Linked DNA regions of Homo sapiens. The protein of the gene in region 4 purifies or fractionates together with the protein of the main gene of each other region. This does not show direct contact. Each region holds a gene or a part of one and is shown on either strand. Other genes may lie near its edges.

Region 1 (5,285 bases), on a different chromosome or scaffold from region 4:
CCTCAATACTGAATCTAGGTTGCATTTTAGCAAATGTATCTCATTCTACTAATGAACAGAGAATTCTTCCTGGGATAAAGTGATCAAGAATTACCAATTACCATGTACTCTGCACGTCAATACCCTGCACAGAATACTAGGTGAGGTGTTTTTAGGGAAACTTATTAATTCAGATTTGCAAATAACAAGACTTGCATTCCATGTCAAGCTGAAGCTGGCTAGATTTCTTCTTCTTCCTTCTTCCTTCTCCTTCTCCTTCTTCCTTTTCCTCTTCCTCCTCCTCTTCTTCTTCTTCTCCTTCTCCTTCTTCTTCTGCTTCTTCTTCTTCTCCCTCTTCTTTTTCTTCTTGCTCTTTCTCTTCCTCTTCCTCTTCATGTCCTTCTCCTTTCTTCTTCTTCTCTTGCATTCCATGTCAAGCTGAAGCTGGCTAGATTTCTCCTCCTCCTTCTCCCCCTCCTCCTCCTCTTTCTTGCCCAGGCAGGAATGCAGTGGCTTGATCTTGGCTCACTGCAACCTATGCTTCCTGAGCTCAAGCAATTCTCCTGCCTCAGCCTCCAGAGTAGCTGGGACCACAGGCGCATGACACTATGCCTGGCTAATTTTTGTATTTTTTGTAGAGACAGGGTTTCCCCATGTTGCCCAGGCTGGACTAGAACTCTTGGCTCAAGTCCTCCACCTACCTTGGCCTCCCTAAGAGCTGGGTTTAGAGGTGTGAGCCACTGAGCCCGGCCAGATTACTTCTTCTTTTATAACCAATAGCTCTAGAGGTCTGTAATTGCCTAATACATAGTGTTTACCTGAATTTGTTAAATTTTAATATAAAATAGCTATAATAAAATAGGATAATTTAACAAACTAAACATCTTAGTATGTGCAGCAGCTTTTATTTAGACACCCTACATTCTACAATAAACTAAGTCATCCCCAAGAAGTCTTTCTTCATTCTGTTCTTAGGAAGGGCAGGGCACATGTTTACTAAGCAAGGGGTAGGCACATGATGAGCTTTGGGCTGGTTAGAAAACTGGCAGACTCACTGTGCAAGTTGGTTCCTGTACCCACGGAGGAGCCCTTGGGAATGACGGGCATAAGGGCATGCTGGATGGCTATCTCCCACATCCTGGCCACATCTGCACCAACGCCACTGGTGAGAACACTGTTATTTGGTGATGGGCTGGAAGGATTGACCACATTTTCTCCCACATAATACACTACATTTGCCGTAGTGATTTCGAAACAATGAGGATTGGCCCCATTAGGAATTAAAGCTGAAGTTTTTACTGGTTCCAGAGACAAAATTTCAGATAAAGGAATTTCCTGTGAAAGAAAAAAAGTACTAAATGTTGTTTATCAAAAGTATGTAAACTTTCAAAGAAAATTCATGCCAAGAACATGTGAAAAATGACATCACAAATAGCCACCATTTAAATAAAATACTTTTAAACTATAAAACACAGAATACTGCTAAGCAAAATTAAAAAAAATACCTTTACTATGGGAAACCTTATTTCCTTTTTCTAGAAAATGTGACTTTTTATGCTATGTTCATGTGGCGAGAATCAGTATGGTTAGGAAAAATGATTTTGAATCTTCACCAAAATCCAAGACTTAGAAAATAAGCGATAATTTTTGTAACAGTGAGGTAGAATCACAACACTTTTGAAATGCATTTAGGCAGACATGGCTATTTTTAAATTTTAACCTATTCTTTAAGGCACTCAATACATGTTAATGTAATAACATAGCCAAGTGAATAGTTTAAGTGAGGACAACTAGAGATTGGTTTTAAAATGGTCTTTTTTTTTTTTTTTCCAAGAAAGAATCTTGCTCCGTCACCTACGCTGGAGTGCAGTGGCGTGATCTCGGCTCACTGCAACCTCCATCTCCCAGTTTCAAGCAATTCTCCTGCCTCAGCCTCCCAAGTAGCTGGAATTACAGGCACCTGCCACTACACCTGGCTAATTTTTGTATTTTTAGTAGAGACAGGGTTTCAACATGTTGGCCAGCCTGGTCTTGAACTCCTAACCTCATGCTGCCTGCCTCGGTGTCCCAAAGTCCTGGGATTACAAGGGTGAGCCACTGCGCCTGGCCTTTTATTTATTTATTTTTATTTTTGAGACAGAGACTTATTCTGTTGCTCAGGCTGGAGTGCATTGGTGCAATCCTGGCTCGCTGCAAACTCCGCCTCCTAGATTAAGGTGATTCTCCTGCCTCAGCATCCTGAGTAGCTGAGATTACAGGTGCATCCCATCACGACTGGCTAATTTGTGTATTTTTGTAAAGACAAGGTTTCACCATGTTGGCCAGGCTGGTCTAGAACTCCTGACCTCAAATGATCCACCTGCCTCGGCCTCCCAAAGTGCTGGGATTACAGGCATGAGCCACTGCGCCTGGCCAATAGTCATCATTTTTAAGGCAATTCATACTAAAAAAAAGAAATCACTACTGCATCTTCCAGGAAGTATGCAGGGGCTAAAAAATAATAACTTTTAAAACAAAGTTTTAATTTTAAAATTAGTGAGGTTTCCATTTTCTGTGACAGCTATGTAAAATGGCTGTGGAGAATCAAATCAACTATTCCAGAGTCTGCATTCATTTTGAAGGAGCAAGTATCTATTATTTTCTCTATGAAGTTTTTTTTGGAGTTGTGTTTTACTGGGTGATATAGTATGCCACATCTGTATTACTTAATGTAGAGGGACAGAATAAAAATTGCTGCCATTTTTTTCTCTAGAGGAAAGTGCTCTTTGTGAATATTGACAAGCATGGAGAAATCATACAATGTTTCTTCACTCCTAGCAGTGTGCTAGATGCAGTGGATATCAGGAGTTTACTTTGAGCTGATCTGCTGTGACCATTAATTTTCTAGTTAAATCACACTTCTCTGCTAACATATTCAATTAATCTTCACCTCCCTCCCTCTCCCATCATCCCATGGTACCAGAAACACTCCCCAGGGAAATTTAAAATTCACAGAAGAATCAAGAGGTCCCAACCTGAATCCCAAGAAATTTGTAGACTATAGAGAAGAAAAAAAAAATAGTTCCTGGAGGAAGCACAAAAATAGCCACGTTTGTTGGATGTATTTCCTATTTCTTATACTCTACATTCCCATGAAAAAGCAATAAGAGGTATGAAACTACAAAGAAAGAGCCCACTCTTACCTTGTAGTACCTGCTTCCTGTGTCATTCTGAAAGAGGGTAATACATTTGCTATCCAATCTCCAATAGTGCCGTTTCCGCTGAAACAGAAGTTAGATCCAAGATCTTTTTAAAAAACTTTAAAAATATCCCCAATTGAAAACATAAATAGATTTCCCCAATAGGGACATGCGATTTGAGGGTGGAAAGTGCATGGGCTTTGGGAAAGGCAGACTCATGCTCAATTTCAGGCTCTAGAGGTTGACTATTTAGCACATGTCTGATAAGTATCTGCATTTATGTTACAGGGTCGTGAGTAATAAAGAAGATGAAGTATTAGCGCCCAGTAAGAGCCTGGCATTTAGAAAGTGCATAGTAAACAGAAAACATCATTTTTAAGCTTATTTCACTGCTTGAAGGGCTAAAGGTGGATGTATAGTCTATAATAAAATAAGGTTTACTAGGAGATGCAATGTTTATTATGCATGCTCATTATTTTAGGACGTAAGAAATCCCATGCTGATGGAGCCAGGTATTCTTGCTTCCATTGGCAATGGGAAAATTCTGAATGTTAGAGTAGAAGTAAAGAATATTTTGTTGGACAATAAGTTTGACTCCATGACATCAACTTAAAGTCAGGGGAATGCATCAAACAACCAACTCTACCTTCTCTCCAGCTCACTACAGATCTAACCACTATGATTTGATGAACAGGTCCTTCTACACTGTAGGTATATCTTTCAGGATTTTAGGGTGTGTGTGTATTTTTATCTTATAAAAGACCCCAAAGCTCTATGATTCCGCTCTTCTCCTCCACAACCAATTTTAGGCCAGTCAAATATATTAAATATATTACACCATGTCTAAAAAGAACTAGGCGGTATTCAATTGAGTCCTATAATATCAGGTAGGTCTTCTCTCTCTAACACAGATGGTCGAAATTATAGATAGATCAATTAGGTTATAGGTGTCTGCTTATCTGTAGTGATCCTATAGGTAAGAGATGAGAAAAGCAATACAGTAACAGAAATCAGTCAATTGTCAACTTAACTTTGAAACGTGAATCAAGTTGTTCTCTCTTACGTACGTACACAACCTCATTCCTCAACTATTAAGAAAATCTCAGGGTACAGGATTCCAATGTTCCTGAATGGGTCAGTTCTTCAGGGAAAACTTAGTTAAGGACTTACGAAGTATAAGATAGTTATCACTGTTTTATTCTCTGCCTAGAATGCAGTGTTTCCTATAAAATTCTAAATTGCAGTGAAGCATTCTGAAAGCACATACTGTGGCTTCCACAAGTGCTATAAAATGGCAGGTAGACATCTCAGGTAATCAAGGTCAATGAATTTGTTTGCCTGAAATTGCTTTCCACACTTTTTCCTAACTTCGTTGCTTGCTCAACTATATCTGACACCCAGAGACTGTAATGCACCTTACCTAATCCCGTGTCATGCCTGTGCTGAGGTTTACTCTGAGTAATGCAGAAATCTCACAGTCCTCACGGGACATTAGCAACTCCTCTAATTAAAGCTAGCAAGGCAAGAGAACATTGTTCCCTGTGGATCTTACCAGCGTGTCCTTGCTGGTGTAGTGGACCATCCATCCTTCTTTCATGACTGTGCTGCTTTTCCTCTTCGTGTGTTTGACAGACTGCACTACCCTCATGAGTGGGATATTGTTGCTTGTTGATGGACTTGAGAAGTCAAAATATTGTAGGGAAAAAATGTTTTCAGGTACATTTTATGTATTTTCATGCATAAAACCTTATGTCAGCTAATCCAAGTGAAACTTTACAAAATTCACATCTCATGTTTAGTAAAACGTATTGTCAGGCACCATGGTTCTGAAAGTGGGTTACTCTGAAGAGTGATAGGCACGTTGTTTGTACACCTTAAAAAATCCTGGCCGGGTGCAGTGACTCACATCTGTAATCCCAGCACTTTGGGAGGCCGAGGCGGGTGGATCACGAGGTCAGGAGTTCAAGACCAGCCTGGCCAAGATGGTGAAACCCCGTCTCTACTAAAAGTACAAAAAAAATCAGCTGGGCATGTTGGCGGGCACCTGTAATCCCAGCTACTTGGGAAGCTGAGGCAGAGAATTGCTTGAACTCGGGAGGCAGAGGTTGCAATGAGCCAAGATTGTAC
Region 2 (5,285 bases), on a different chromosome or scaffold from region 4:
AATTACCAAATAAGAAACACATCTTTTTTTAGGTTTTTGCCAATTGAAAAAACACAACTTTTTTGTGATTATTTTTTAGGTAAAGAATAATTAGTATTCAAAAAGTAGAAAAAATGGTTATAAGTAATTTTCAATTTTAGTATGGGTTAAGAAAAAAATGTAAACTGCTTGCTATTTGACTTTATCACATTTAAGTTTCAATCTCATTAGGAGTATACATTTATCATAAAAATACTTCCTATTATGCTAATTAAGTACTTTTGTTCAAAGTATTACATCATGTCTATGGTTCCATAGCACACTTATACGTTACCAAATAAAATTTTATTTAAAATTTCCATATAAAATTGGATAAAGAATCAGAAGAGAAAACCCAAATCAGGGGCAATTGTTAGCAAATACTTAATCATAATCTACAGCATTAAGAGGTAGTAAAGATTTTTTAGCCAAATTTTGTCAGACCCACTTGGTCCCTGATTCCGGCAGATGGAGTGGGAGTAGCTTATACGATGGTCACACTGGTGCATCTACCACTATCACACACACCTGTTAGTGGACAGAAGTCAGTCCAGAGTGGCTTAACTCTAAGAGTACAAGAAGCAAATTGGAGAACAGGAGTGAAGAAGAGAGAAAGTAAACACACTTTGAAACTGTTCAGACCCTTGCTGGATAGGGGTATGGACCTCATGCCACCCAAGCCCACTCTGCAGGACACTGGCTTTTGTGCAGCTCTTCATCACAGAGTCTGTTGAGCTACAACCCAGAAAAAAAACATGAAGGGATCTCTGGTCTGTCTGATTCATCCTCTTAAGCATAGATTTGTTCAGTATTTGTCTTCCTTCCAGGATAAAATTCTTTTTTTTTTTTTTTTTTAAGAGACGGTGTCTCACTATGTTGCCCAGGCTGGTCTGGAACTCTTGGCTTCAAGCAATCCTCCCCCATCGGCCTCCCAAAGTGTTGGAATTATAGGCATAGCCACTGCTCCCCACCCTGGGTAAGATTCTTAACCTGTGCTCCACAGGCTGATTCTAGGTAAACATTTGAGGCTAATAAAAATGTACGCCATAGGCCGGCGCGGTGGCTCATGCCTGTAATCCCAGCACTTTGGGAGGCCGAGGCGGGCAGATTACGAGGTCAGCAGATCGAGACCATCCTGGCTAACACGGTGAAACCCCGCCTCTACTAAAAATCCAAAAAATTAGCCGGACGTGGTGGCGGGCGCCTGTAGTCCCAGCTACTCGGGATGCTGAGGCAGGAGAATGGCGTGAACCCGGGAGGCGGAGCTTGCAGTGAGCCGAGATCGCGCCACTGCACTCCAGCCTGGGCGACAGAGCGAGCGAGACTCCGTCACAACAACAACAACAACAAAAAAATGTACGCCATCATCGGATTCTCAAGGAGGTCTAGGGTCTGGGGATTCCCTAAAAAGTTACGAAGCATTGGCCGGGCGCGGTGGCTCACGCCTGTAATCCCAGCACTTTGGGAGGCCCGGGGCGGGCGGATCACGAGGTCAGGAGATCGAGACCATCCTGGCTAACATGGTGAAACCCCGCCTCTACTGAAAATACAAAAAATTAGCCGGGCATGGTGGCGGGCGCCTGTAGTCCCAGCTACTCAGGAGGCTGAGGCAGGAGAATGGCGTGAACCCGGGAGGCGGAGCTTGCAGTAAGCTGAGATTGTGCCACTGCACCCCAGCCTGGGCGACAGAGCAAGACTCCGTCTCAAAAAAAAAAAAAAATTTACGAAGCATCAACGAACCAGGAAAAGGTAAAAAGAGAATTGGAAGAGATAGACAGAATTTTTACTTTGTCTTTTTGTTTCCTTCTGGTTGCCAGCCTCAAGAGATGTTTGCTTGATTCAGGGCTGAAGGAGAGTAAAGAAAAGCTGTGAGGCTGTAGTAATCTAGTAGTGGTAAGCTCAGCATGAGAAGCAGTACTAGGAACCCTCGGCTCTTAAAAGGAAAAGATTTTATTTTAATTAGGGGGAAAAGGGAACGAGTTTATCTCTGAGGCCAGCACAAGAAAACAGGTGAGTGGGTCTAGAAGTGAAGAGGGCTCTCAGGGGACCCCCAGAGGAAGCTCCAGCACAAACTCCCTGATCCCTGTGACTTCACAAGCTGCACCTCCCATCTTCTTGAAACCCCTCCCCTGCCATAAAAGGGCAAAGCCTTGTTGAAAGATTGTAGAAGAACCCTGTCTTCCCACTCACCCAAAGAAAGCAAAGACGAGTTCCTGGAAATCTAACTCTGAAAACTCACCCCTCTCTCCAAGAAACATCTGATGTGGTGATTTGGTTCAATGGCAGTGTTAGTAGAGAACTATACGTGAATTATAAAGTGGGTTACTTTTACAGACTCTTACAGGTTCGCTGGGGACCATATCATTAAGGATAACTATTTATTTATGAAATGAATTTCAAGTTTTAAATAACCAAATGACAAGCGAACTGTTTGGAATAAAATTGTTGGAAATGCAACTCACTTATAAGTTAAGGTATACCCAATTTTTGAACAAATCACATAGAGCATGAGAAAAACATCATCTAGTAGCCAGTTCTCTGATAGGTAATTCTTTCTGTGTTTATTGTTTTTTAAATAGAAGTATACAAATGATCATATGGAATGAAACCTAAAAAGAGGCTGAGATTAGGCACCTTTTTAAAAGAATGTCATTTTAGAAACAATGAAATTAATCAGAGCTGTACTTTGTAGGAGGCAAAGAGAGTCGTGGGAGTATTTCAGCTAGTGACTTGAAAATACATTTTTCTGGCAAATTTTTCTTTTTATAAATGTCTGCATTTGTCAAAAACCTGTTGGATGATGAAACGAAATTGTTGTTGAGAAGACAAAGGTAAAGTTGACGATATTACAAATATCAATATAATTTACTTTTCCTAATGACTAAATATTTTATCTGAGACCTTATTATATAAACTGTGAAAGTATTTCATTGTAATTCTACTGGTAAGGGAGGGTTTAGGGGTTCTCCAATTCAAATATACTCCCAATTGCAACTCAAAATCATCATGTTTAAAAAGTATTTAACAGGGGAAATAGTATAGTATTATTTGAGGATAATATAAATGTAAGCTCATAATATAAAATTCTGTTTTCGCAATTTGATTCCCTGTCCTCCACCCCCCACCCCCAGTCCAAGAAACTCAAGTTCGGAGCATGGCATTCTATGATGTATCCATCCAATTCTGCCATTCTAAGTATTCAGTTTTTCAACTTGTAGAAGAAACACCTCTAGTATTGTGTGAAATGGGTCTGGGAAGATGATGCATTTTTCCTTCAGGACCAGTGAAAATATTTATGACATCTATGAAATGATCTCATTTTGTTGCACAAAACCTTTCCCTGAAATCACTGTTTATCTGGGACCCAGCAGCCCAACTGCATAGCGCATGTTGTTCAATGGGCAGCCTGAGGAATGGATTCCAGGGCCCATATTGAGGCCAAGTAGAGGACAACAGGACTCCTGAAGCACTTGGATCCAGTTGCAGAGGTGAATATCTTATTTTGAAAGAATTAAAGCTGGCTGATGACCAGATAAAGAGATATCCACTAAAGATCAGGAATAATTTTTTAACATCTTATTTTCTGAAGAAATGCCAGCCCACATTAGACACATTATAAATGTGTAGATTGCAGGCAAGCAATGATCTAATTAGCAGCATTACAAACCCCAAACTTATTTCCTCCCCTTTGCCGGAAGCAAAGCTAATCAGTTAGGAGAAATAAACATCATTCCAAATGGCTCAAAACAATCAAAGTTATATTTCTGTATAACCACTATGCCATCATTTAAGGAGTACATTTCCAACCTGCCACACCTCTAATAGGTTGGCTTAACAGCACATTTGTAAGCATAAAACTAGAAAAATAATAGGGTGAAATAAATTAATTGAATATGAAACTTTAAGGAGAAGTTAACATAAAGTACAAAAAAATTATTCGTTTAAAATTCTAAGTACTCTTAAAAGAATTTATACAGCAGAAAAAATGCAAAACAATGCTGGTAAGTAAAAAAATTCATTTATTCATTTAAAGCCTTATGTCTTTCTAAAATTCCCAGATTTATTGTAGCTTTTATTAGCACTTTTCACTTTCTTGCAAAAGACATGGCAAAGTGTTTAATCCTACATATATCTTAGTGCCTTCTCAGTCACTAAAACCCAGGACATCAGCTGGTGTGCTGCTTTCGTGGGTGCACTACTTTGTAAATATTCTGTGCTTATTTCTTGCCTTGTGTCTATTCTGTCCTCCCTGGTAGCTTGTGAGGTGCTGGAGAGCAGGTACCAGATATTCAACTCTTTAAACTTTCCCAATGTCAAGTGCAAAGAATGATGTACTGGGGTCACTCAGTAAATACAATTGATTGGCTAGTGTTTTAGTCCTTCATCATGAGCCTCAGCAATTTTACAACAACTACCAGCTTAAATCTTTACCTAATCCAAAACACAGATATTATAGTGAATGTAGGAAATCACCCACCAACATTGATTTAGCATGTTTACAGTGCCAGATCTACATGCAAGCTAACTGTTCATATCAGCATCCAACCTCACTTTTAGAATCTAGGTTTTCATATTCAATGTCCAACATATTCTCAATCTTCTAAAATGCATCCATTTAAGAATTAGTTAAGAGACAACATGGGGAGAGAATAACAATGCTTAATTTTATACACTTTTCTCCCCTAGGAGGTTCAGATGTTGATTTTTTCTCTCTCCTTTTTGTTTTTCTCTCATCATTTTGACATGCTTATTTTCCAGGGCTTGTTTGAAAAATTAAAATATTCACATAATTTTGTTAAGGAGACTAGATGCATTGAGGAATTAGATTATGGGAGATATATGTTCAGTTTGTGGTTGGCTTAGCTGTTACCATCCTCTCTACACTCTTCTATTGACCTCATATCTACCAGACTAAGAAATGCTTTGTTTCTATTATCAAATTTGCATATGTACTCAAATTTGTGTGTGTGTGTTCAACACACACCATTTGTTCTAAAATTACATTTTGCTCTGTATCACCTAACCAAACTACCTATGGTAGACCTCCATCGTCCCATTGCTGCCTCTCATGAGGCACAGCTGAGTTCCATCAGGTTTCATTATTTATTCATTAAAATAAAACAGCAGAGGCTGGGCGCAGTGGCTCATGCCTGTAATCCCAGCACTTTGAAAGGAGGCTGAGGCGGCGGATCACGAGGTCCGGAGTTCAAGACCAGCCTGGCCAACGTAGTGAAACCCCGTCTCTACTGAAAATACAAAAATTAGGG
Region 3 (5,285 bases), about 140 Mb from region 4:
ATCACTTGAGGTCAGGAGTTTGAGACCAGCCTAGCCAATATGGTGAAACCCCATCTCTACTAAAAATACAAAAACTAGCTGATCGTGGTGGCAGGCACCTGTAATCCCAGCTACTCAGGAGGCTGAGGCAGGAGAATCGCTTGAACCCGCGGGGCAGAGGTTGCAGTGAGCTGAGATCACACCATTGCACTCCAGCCTGGGCGACAAGAATGAAACTCTATCTCAAAAAAATAAAAAACATATGGAACAGTATTGGCAGAATAAGTAATCTAGACAAACCTTCTTGATGAAGACAATTTAAAAAGCTGGCTAAAAAAACCCAAAAACTTCCTAAAAGCATCAAATGGCCAAGGCAGTATGGAGTTACTGGGCTGAGATCTGGAAAGACTGGAGCCGAGAAAAGTAAGTCTGTACTTGGCTGGCTTTTGCCCTGAGGCATAGCACTGGCTGATCCAGAGAAGAAGCTGGGCTCTGCTAGCTTTTGGTGCCATCACTGCTCAGTGCTCACTAAGGACAAGGACCCTGGAGAATTTCCTGCTTCCTCCCAAATCAGAGATGACACCCTAAAGAGCTATAGTGATTTCAGAACTTTTTTTTTTTTTTCTTGAGACAGAGTCTCGCTCTGTTGCCCAGGCTGGAATGCAGTGGCACCATTTCAGTTCACTGCAACCTCCAGCTCCTGGGTTCAACCAATTCTTGTGCCTCAGCCTCCCAAGTAGCGAGGATTACACACACATGCCACAACGCTTGGCTAATTTTTTTGTGTTTTTAGTAGATACAGGGTTTTGCCATGTTGGCCAGGCTGGTCTCGAACTCCTGACCTCAGGTGTTCCGCCTGCCTCGGCCTCCTAAAGTATTGGGATTCAGGTATGAGCCACTGTGCCCAGCCTCAGAGCTTCTTATCTGCAGGCCCAGTACACCTCAAACTCTGGTCCTAGACCAAGGCAGGCAAACTAAGACATGCAGCTCACATCTGCCCTGTTACCTATTTTTATGGGCTGCAAGCTAATAATGGCTAAATAATTGGAGAAAAAAAATCAAAAGAAAAATATTTCATGACACATAAAAATTACATGAAATTCAAATTTCACTGTCCATAAAGTTTTATTAAAGCATAGCCATGCCCATTCATTTATATATTGTCTATGAGTGATTTAGACTATGATAGCACAGCTGAGTTGCTGCAACAGAGACTCTAAGGCCCACAAAGCCTAAAATATTTACGTCTGACTCTTTACAGAAGAAGTTTGCAGAGCTCTGTCCTTGACTATGAATATTCTCGAGCGCCTGTCAGAACTAAACAAAAATCCTCTCTGAAGGAAAACACCATCATCCTAGAACTGAAATGAAAATAAAGAGGCAAATTAGAAGCCTAGATGTCATAACCCAGAACCAACTGAAATAAAAGACACTAGGGATTCCAGAGGTGATTGAAATTATTAGGCCTTAGTCCATTTGGGCTGCTATTTAATATAATAATATACCATAGATAATATATCTACTTTTATTCTAGGTATTACAATATTAACTTAGGTTCCCTAATACTTGATATACTATATTATCATAGTAACAGCTGCCATTTATTGAGATCTTACTGCAAAACACACACTGTTTTGAGATAGGGTGTCGCTCTGTCACCCAGGCTGGAGTACAGTGGCACAATCACAGCTCACTGCAGCCTCGCCTTCCTGGGCTCAACTGATTCTCCCACCTCAGCCTCCTGAGTAGCTGGGACTATAGACACGTGCCACCAGACCCGCCAATTTTTCTATTTTTTGTAGAGATGGGGTTTCACCATGTTGCCCAGACTGGTCTTGAACTCCTGAGCTCAAGTGATCCATCTCAGCCTCCCAAAGTGCTGGGACTACAGGCATGAGCCACTACACCCAGCCTACATACATAATTTTATTTCCTACTTCACAACTAGTATTACCCTAGTTTAACAAAGTGACTGAAACAAGGCTAAGTAAGACTAAATTACTTTTCCAAGCTGGCAAATGATGGTGCTGGGATTTTGAACCCAGATCTGTGTTTTGCCAAAGCCTGAGCTCATTACCACCAGTGAGTGGGTAATCACATTGACATTTATCAGCAACACCTCAGAACAAATCACATTATAGGCTGAAGTATCAATAGGAGAGTACTGAACAAATGCTTTTTGCCTTCTACTACTCTCACACTCCTTGTTTGTACAGCTGTGGTTCTCACTTGGTCACACCTAATGCTGCTTCATAACCTCCAGGAGGCTTTTCCTAAGTCAGTCCACAAAGTAAGTCATCATCATTATTGTATGGGTTTAAAACAAGTTCCCATTTCCTCACTCCTGGCAATGAAATATTAAATGGTCTCTACAAAGTTTTTCAATCAGAAGAGAGGAGGGAGGAGAACACTAATCTATGAAGTAGTATAAGGGACTAAAATAACCTTGCTCTCCCATTAGACTGTAAAGGAGGAATTTTTGTCTGCTCTGCTGTATCCAAGGCTCCTAGCATTAGTGCCTGGCATAGAGCAAGAGCTCAAGAAATATCTGTTGAATGAATGAATGAGTTTTTTCCTGGAAGCACAGAAAAATAGTTAAAGCTTGGACTGTAATAATAGCAGAAACTGAAGATAACAATCATTAAGTTCCTGCTATGAACTTTTATCTTCATGAGACTCTAAAAATTTCTGCAGAGAAAAGGGGCCCAGACACAACACTATCTTCTTAACATTTCTGCCTAAGCACCAACATATGATATCAGGTTTCCTTGTTTTGAGATGGAGTCTCACTCTGAAGCCCAGGTTGGAGCACTGTGGCGTGATCTTGGCTCACTGCAACTCTGCCTCCTGGGTTCAAGCAATTCTCCTGCCTCAGCCTCCCCAGTCTCCAGCTCCTAACCTCAGGTGATCTGCCTGCCTCGGCCTCCCAAAGTGCTGGGATTACAGGTGTGAACCACTGTGCCCGGATGACATAGGGTTTCCAATAGCTACTTTTAATATAAATATTTCAGGTTACGCTGAAATAAATTCATTCTATATAATAGTCTGTGATATTTAGAGACATTCAACCTAAACCAAATTTGCTTTATTTTATTTTACTTATTGTTTTTCTGAAACAGAGCCTTTCTCTGTTGCCCAGGCTAGAGTGCAGTGGCGTGATCTCGGATCACTGCAACCTCTACCTCCTGGGTTCAAGTGATTCTCCTGCCTCAACCTCCCAAGTAGCTGGGATTACAGACACACGCCACCAGGCCTGGCTAATTTTTACATTTTTAGTAGAGGTGCGGTCTCACTATGTTGGCCAAGCTGGTCTCGAACTCCTGACCTCAAGTAATCTGCCCTCCTTGGCCTCGCAAAGTGCTGGGATTACAGGCGTGAGCCATTGAGCCCAGCCCAGATTTGCTTCCTTTCAGTCATACTATAAGATTTCAAAATGCAGCTAACTTCACAATATAAGACCTACCAATTCCATCTTCCTAGCGTTATTTACCATGAATCTCTCTCTTTTTTTTTTTTTTTTTTTTTTTTTTTTTGAGACGGAGTCTCGCTCTGTCGCCCAGGCTGGAGTGCAGTAGTGTGATCTCAGCTCACTGCAACCTCTGCCTCCCGGGTTCAAGCAATTCTCCTGCCTCAGCCTCCCGAGTAGCTGGGACTACAGGCATGCTCCACCATGCCTGGCTAAATTTTGTATTTTTAGTAGAGATGGGGTTTCACCATGTTGACCAGGCTGGTGTTGAACTCCTGACTTCATGATCCACCCACTTTGGCCTCCCAAAGTGCTGGGATTACAGGCGTGAGCCACTGCACCTGGCCGAATCTCTTCTTTTTTTTTTTTTTTGAGACAGAGTCTCACTCTGTCACCCAGGCTGGAGTGCAGTGGCGCGATCTTGGCCCACTGCAACCTCCACCTCCCGGGTTCAAGCAATTCTCCTCCCTCAGCCTCCTGAGTAGCTGGTATTACAGGTGTGCGCCACCACACCCAGCTAATTTTTTTTTTTTAATAGACAAGGGGTTTCACCATGTTGGTCAGGCTAGTCTCGAGCTCCTGACCTCGTGATCTGCCTGCCTCGGCCTCTCAAAGTGCTGGGATTACAGGCGTGAGCCACTGCGCCTGGCCCCAATCTCTTCTCAAGCAGGGCTTACACACACAGGACTTAATACTAATATAGAGCTTTAGAATTTATTGAGAGCTTCCCATAAATTATTTCACATCAAAACTCTGCTTTGAGGTAGATATTTCTGTTTACCCAATTTATTGATAAAACTGAGACTCAAATTAAGTAACTTCCTAAAGTCATTTCAGGTTCATACTCAGGGCAGACAGGGCATAAACCTACTTTGTCTAACCAGAAGTTCTTTTTGCTCATATATTTGTTCATCTATAAACTTGTGAGCTACAAGCTAGCAGGTTCTGTCTAAATCATGTAATACATTACCAAGGCCCGAAACACATTTTAATGTTTCTTGATAGTGATAATGATAACAACAAGGCCGTCTGCCGTTGCCACCAACTACACTTTTAAAAATAAATTTTTCCACTAATGCCGTCTTTTATTTTCTACTGATAAGTCAACAAGCAAAACCCCCTCACATTAGGTTCTGAGGAATGCCACAACAGAAAACAAGGACGATAAAAATAGTTGCAAAAAATAACCCGTTACTAGAAAGTTCTAATGCTCAGACTGTCCAAGACAATCAATGACTCATGAAAGAAAAAAGTAAGATTTACCTTTAACTTAAGAGATTCTCCAAGTAAGGTTCCCTTATAATCTGTTGTATAGGTCCAATCATATGGTTTAATAACCTCTTTGGAGTGTTCACCCTCCGTCCTCAAATACCAAAATGAGAAGGATCAGATTCAGTGATGCAGAATAGAGATTATCTGTATTTATATATCACATCAAATTATATTCTATAATAACATATCCTATTAAATATATACACTTGTTATAATTCACCAGTACAAGGTTTTTCTTACAGTTTTTCTGCATTTATTATTTAACTTGTCATGTACTGATGTAGTCTTTTCAATTAGTCTGTATACAGCCTGAGGACATGGTTTAAAGGTTTATACTTATTTGTATCATCTAAGGTACTTAGTACATATTAGGCACAAAGTAAATAATTGCTGATTTGACTATCAAAGAAAAACATGTTGTCTTAATTTCAATGCTTCTCAAATAGGGTATTTATTAAGCATATCATAAGTAAACATTTTTTCTTAAAAACAGGAACATTAAGTATAGCCTACTGCCTCTTCAGTAAGGAACACTGAAAAATCGAAAACGTACATAGCTCAGCTCAGT
Region 4 (5,285 bases):
AGAGTCTCGCTCTGTTGCCCAGGCTGGAGTGCAGTGGCGCCATCTTGGCTCACTGCAAGCTCCGCCTCCCGGGTTCACGCCATTCTCCTGCCTCAGCCTCCCAAGTAGCTGGGACTACAGGCATGTAAAAATTAGGCCCGGCCTAATTTTTGTATTTTCAGTAGAGACGGGGTTTCACCGTGTTAGCCAGGCTGGTCCTGAACTCCTGACCTCGTGATCCACCAGCCTCGGCCTCCCAAAGTGCTGGGATTACAGGCGTGAGCCACCACGCCCGGCCTTAGAAAACCACTCTTAATCTGTCTCTGTGCATCATATAGAATCTGTTTTTTTCTTTCTTCCCATTTTCTGAGCTTAGTAATAGAGACCCAATGAGACCCTTAGACTTTTTTTTTGAGAAGGAGTCTCACTCTGTCGCCCAGGCTGGAGTGCAGTGGCGCGATCTCGGCTCACTGAAAGCTCTGCCTTCCAGGTTCACACCATTCTCCTGCCTCAGCCTCCTGAGCAGCTGGGACTACAGGCACCCACTACCACGCCTGGCTAATTTCTTTTTGTATTTTTAGTAGAGATGGGGTTTCACTGTGTTAGCCAGGATGGTCTCGATCTCCTGACCTCGTGATCTGCCTGCCTTGGCCTCCCAAAGTGCTGGGATTACAGGCGTGAGCCACTGCACCTGGCCAAGACCCTTAGAGATTTATGAACTACCAAGGTACCTCAGTACAAACTGCTTTTACACTTAAGATTTTCCTTTTAAATCCACAACAAATCTAGAACATGTACAATCGTGAAATTTGCTACAGTGAAGATTAGGGTTTCCGCTACTTTGCAAGTACGCTAAAATACAAACTGTAAATGGGCAGCCATTATGCACTGCCTCATAGTGTTGATTATAGGGAGGCGTACTGGGTAGGCAACATTCCCCCAAGGATTTGGATATAAGGGAAGTAAGTGTGTCCCTTGAGAGTTAAACTATAAAATCAACATAGAGTAGGTGGGATTGTAGGCATCTGCATTTTATTCCTACCATTTAATTTTGTAGGTTTTGTGTATCTTATATGTTTTCTTTATTTTTATTTTTTGGAGACAGGGTTTCACTGTCACGCAGGCTGGAGTACAATGGCGTGATCTAGGTTCATTACAGCTTTGACCTCTTGGGCTCAAGTGATCCTCCCACGTCAGCCTCCCCCCACATCAGCCTCCTGAGTAGCTGGGACTACCTCCCGAGTAGCTGGGACTACAGGTCCGTGCCACCACACCCAGCTAATTTTATTTTTTGTAGAGATGAGGTCTCACTACGTTGCCCAGGCTGGTCTTGAACTCCTGGACTCAAGTCATCTGCTTGCCTTGGCCTCCCAAAGTGCTGGGATTACAGGCATGAGCTGCTATGCTTGGCCTGTATGTCTTTTATATGTTTTCTTTGTATTTTATTATATGTTTTAATATCTTTTTGGTGGTTTTCTCATTTATAACATTTGTTTGCTTAATAGAGTTTATTTTTTCTGTAGTGGTCTGGGAATTGTAATTACTATTTTTAGTCTACTATGTAAATTTACCACTGTTTAAACCTATATTGTCAAAGTTAAGAACTAAAGGAGATTGCCGGGTGCGGTGGCTCACGCCTGTAATCCCAGAACTTTGGGAGGCCAAGGTGAGCGGATCACCAGAGGTCAGGGGTTCGAGAGCAGCCTGCCCAACATGGCGAAACCCTGTCTCTACTAAAAACACAAAAATCAGCCGGCCAGGTGGCGGGCCCCTGTAATCTCAGCTACTCGGAAGGCTGAGGCAGGAGAATCACTTGAACTCGGGAGACAGAGGTTGCAGTGAGCGGAGATCGCACCACTGTACTCCAGCCTGGGTGACAGAGTGAGCCTCTGTCTCAATTAAAAAAAAAAAAAAACAACACTAAAGGAGAAGAAAACTTATACTCTAAGGGAGCCAGGGAAGATTAAAGGAGAAACCTTTAACATCCATTAAGTGTCCCAGTCCCTACTGCCCCCATGTTGATATTCCTGTTTATTATTGCTGCTGCTGTGGTTGTCTACTCCAGAGTTTGGCTCCTTGCACTTTCTTTCTTCATAGGAGATAAATAAGAAGTCATATAATCACATACCTTGACAGGGCTGTCATTGTAGAGCCATGAAAGAAAATTTGTGGAGTTCCAGTAAGTATCAGGACATTCCCACTCCCCATCAGACCAGATCAGATCAGGTTTATAGCTGGAAGACATGTGATCAGGACAGAGCTTATTATCTGAACATGTTCACAGTAAAATCTTATGGACCATTTTTTTTTTTAGAGATGGGGTTTCGCTATGTTGCCTAAGCTTGAGTCCAGCAGCTATCAACATGTATGATCACAATGCACTATAGTCTCGAATTCCTGGGCTCAAGCGATCCTCTTGCCTAAGCCTCCTGAGTAGTTGGGACTACAGGTGCACATCACTGCATTTGACTTGTGGACTGATTTTTGCAACAAATATTTTAAAATTAATTTTCCTTCATTTTGAAAGTATGTGGCATAAAAATTATCACAGTGCAGAGGATGTGGAAAACTGAAAACATTTGCTAATAAAACCAGTTTGCTAATAAAACCACCATTTAAAACAAACACAGCAGGCTGGGCACAGTGGCTCACACCTGTAATCCTAGCACTTTGGGAGGCCGAGATGGGCGGATCACGAGGTCAGGAGATCGAGACCATCCTGGGTAACACGGTGAAACCCCGTCTCTACTAAAAATACAAAAAAATTAGCCAGGTGTGGTGGTGGGCGCCTGTATTCCCAGCTACTCGGGAGGCTGAGGCAGGAGAATGGCGTGAACCTGGGAGGCGGAGCTTGCAGTGAGCCGAGATTGCGCCACTGCACTCCAGCCTGGGCGACGGAGTGAAACTCCGTCTCAAAAAAAAAAAAAAAAAACACACAGCATTTTGGTATATTTCCTCCTGATCTTTTCCTTTCTTCCTTTTTTTTTTTGAGACTGTTTTGCTTTGTCTCCCAGGCTGGAGTGCAGTGCTGTGATCTCGGCTCACTGCAACCTTCACCTGCTGGATTCAAGTGATTCTTGCACTTCAGCCACCCAAGTAGCTGGGATTACAGGTGTGCACCACCATGCCTGACTAATTTTCATATTTTCAGTACAGACAGTGTTTTGCCATCTTGGCCAGGCTGGTCTTGAACTCTTGGCAGCAAGTGATCCACCTGCCTCGGCTTCGCAAAGTGCTGGGATTTCAGGCATGAGCCACTGTGCCTGCCCTAATCTTTTTTCTTTATGCCTTTTAGGAAATGGAGGTGTAATCAGCATACAAACAATTTGGTTTCCTTTCAGCAACTAATTCCAATTAAGAATGGGTGCAGCTGGCCGGGCACAGTGGCTCACACCTGTAATCCCAGCACTTTGGGAGGCCGAGGCGGGCGGATCACGAGGTCGGGAGATCGAGACCATCCTAGCTAACACCGTGAAACCCCATCTCTACTAAAAATACAAAAAATTAGCCGGGCATGGTGGCGGGCGCCTGTAGTCCCAGCTACTTGGGAGGCTGAGGCAGGAGAATGGCGTGAACCCGGGAGGCGGAGCTTGCAGTGAGCCGAGATTGCGCCACTGTACTCCAGCCTGGGCGACGGAGCGAGACTCCGTCTCAAAAAAAAAAAAAAAAAAAAAAAAGAATGGGTGCAGCACACCAGCATGGCACATGTATACATATGTAATTAACCTGCACATTGTACACATGTATCCTAAAACTTAAAGTATAATAAAAAAAAAAAGAATGGTGTTTCAAGGAAGCAAAGGAAACAAAATGGTGCTTCAGGACTATAAGACTAAGATTTGCTTTGAAGATGTTTTAAGAGTTGGAACTATTCATAAAATGCATTTTTGTGGATAATTACCAAAGTCTGTACTGTAAAGGACTTATGGAATCCACTGGAGCCCCATTTGTACTCTAGCATATTATTACTCTGAGCCCTATAAGGCATGTATGTTGTGTGTATATACATAAATACATATGTATATACCTATATGGTAAGCATTATTATTCTCATTTGAGCAGCAAGACTTTGATGCTCAGTAGGGCAATTTGTTTCAGGTGACAAGGCTTGTAAGTAACAGGAGGTGGAACTCAAATACAAATCTGCCCATTTGTCCACTGTACTCCATAATTAGGCAGGTAAACTCTAGGAAGATCACTAAGTGGCAAGATATAACAGATGGTCTGTGATTTACTGTGTATAAGAAATTGTACTAGGCAATTTAAACTCATTACCTCATTAGTTCTCATGATTCTAGGATATACTATTATCCCATTTCACAGATAGAGAAACCAAGATCTCGAAAGATAAGTAGTTTGTTCAAGGCAACATAGCCAAGTACGATAAAAGAGTGGGGATCTAAGATTCAGTAATTCTAAATCTGTCCATGTCTCTGATGGTCTCTTACAATTGTTACTATTTTCTTAAGAGAAGTCATCTGGATAGAATCTGAATACAAGGTAATTTTTCTTTTCTTGAGACAAAGTTTTCCTCTGTAGCCCAGGCTGAAGTACAGTAGCAGGATCTCGGCTCACTGCAACTGCCTCCCTGGTTCAAGAGATTCTCCTGCCTCAGCCTCCCGAGTAGCTGGGACTACAGGTATGCACCAGCATGCCTGGCCAATTTTTGTATTTTTTAGTAGAGACGAGATTTCACCGTGTTGGCCAGGCTGGTCTCGAACTCCTGACTTCAAGTGATCTGCCTGCCTCGGCCTCCCAAAATGCTGGGATTACAGGCGTAAGCCACTGCGCCTGGCTAAAGGTGATTTTCCTTTGCTCTAAAGTGAGGGTCCAGGCAGCTGCCTCTGAAGCTTTAAGGGTCTACCGTCCTCTATGAGTCCCCAGGCTCGAGAAAGGCAAATGGGGATAAAACATTGTGAAGAACTAGTGACAAATCCCTAAGTGAAAGTGATCATTTAAAGAATAATGGTAATAACAACAGCCTTACTTTGTACCAGGCACCGTGACAGATACATTTCACATACTATTCTGAGCCCTACAAAGAAGGCATTATTATCCCCACTTTACAGAGTGAGAATCAAGCTCAGGAGAGTGTTCTGTTTAAGGCATGTAAGTAACAGGAGCCAGAATTCAAACACAAATCTGCCCGATGCCAAACCACCCCCTCTCCAGGGTCCTGACATAGGGAAAACGGCATGTAAGAAGGGAACTAAAATTTTGACTTTCTGCCATCCTGGGTTTTGTGTGATTGTTTCAATGTAGAAGGCAATATGGCCACATGACAGAAGTTCTGAAAGGCAGGAGGA

What was found.
Region 1: the proteins of FUCA1 (region 4) and PRKD1 purify together in Homo sapiens (affinity purification with mass spectrometry; 2 studies listed by BioGRID and IntAct, with this or other methods). This does not show direct contact.
Region 2: the proteins of FUCA1 (region 4) and RBMS1 fractionate together in Homo sapiens (co-fractionation; one large-scale study listed by BioGRID). This does not show direct contact.
Region 3: the proteins of FUCA1 (region 4) and TIPRL purify together in Homo sapiens (affinity purification with mass spectrometry; 2 studies listed by BioGRID and IntAct, with this or other methods). This does not show direct contact.

Annotation. Positions count from the first base shown.
Region 1 is NC_000014.9:29,629,708-29,634,992, forward strand, and holds part of PRKD1 (serine/threonine-protein kinase D1), read right to left. Parts: intron 4,835-5,285; coding exon 4,711-4,834; intron 3,240-4,710; coding exon 3,162-3,239; intron 1,315-3,161; coding exon 1,035-1,314; intron 1-1,034.
Region 2 is NC_000002.12:160,483,148-160,488,432, forward strand, and holds part of RBMS1 (RNA-binding motif, single-stranded-interacting protein 1), read right to left. Parts: intron 1-5,285.
Region 3 is NC_000001.11:168,184,302-168,189,586, reverse strand, and holds part of TIPRL (TIP41-like protein), read right to left. Parts: intron 4,809-5,285; coding exon 4,709-4,808; intron 1-4,708. UniProt on the Homo sapiens protein: May be a allosteric regulator of serine/threonine-protein phosphatase 2A (PP2A). Isoform 1 inhibits catalytic activity of the PP2A(D) core complex in vitro. The PP2A(C):TIPRL complex does not show phosphatase activity.
Region 4 is NC_000001.11:23,857,691-23,862,975, forward strand, and holds part of FUCA1 (tissue alpha-L-fucosidase precursor), read right to left. Parts: intron 2,214-5,285; coding exon 2,108-2,213; intron 1-2,107. UniProt on the Homo sapiens protein: Alpha-L-fucosidase is responsible for hydrolyzing the alpha-1,6-linked fucose joined to the reducing-end N-acetylglucosamine of the carbohydrate moieties of glycoproteins.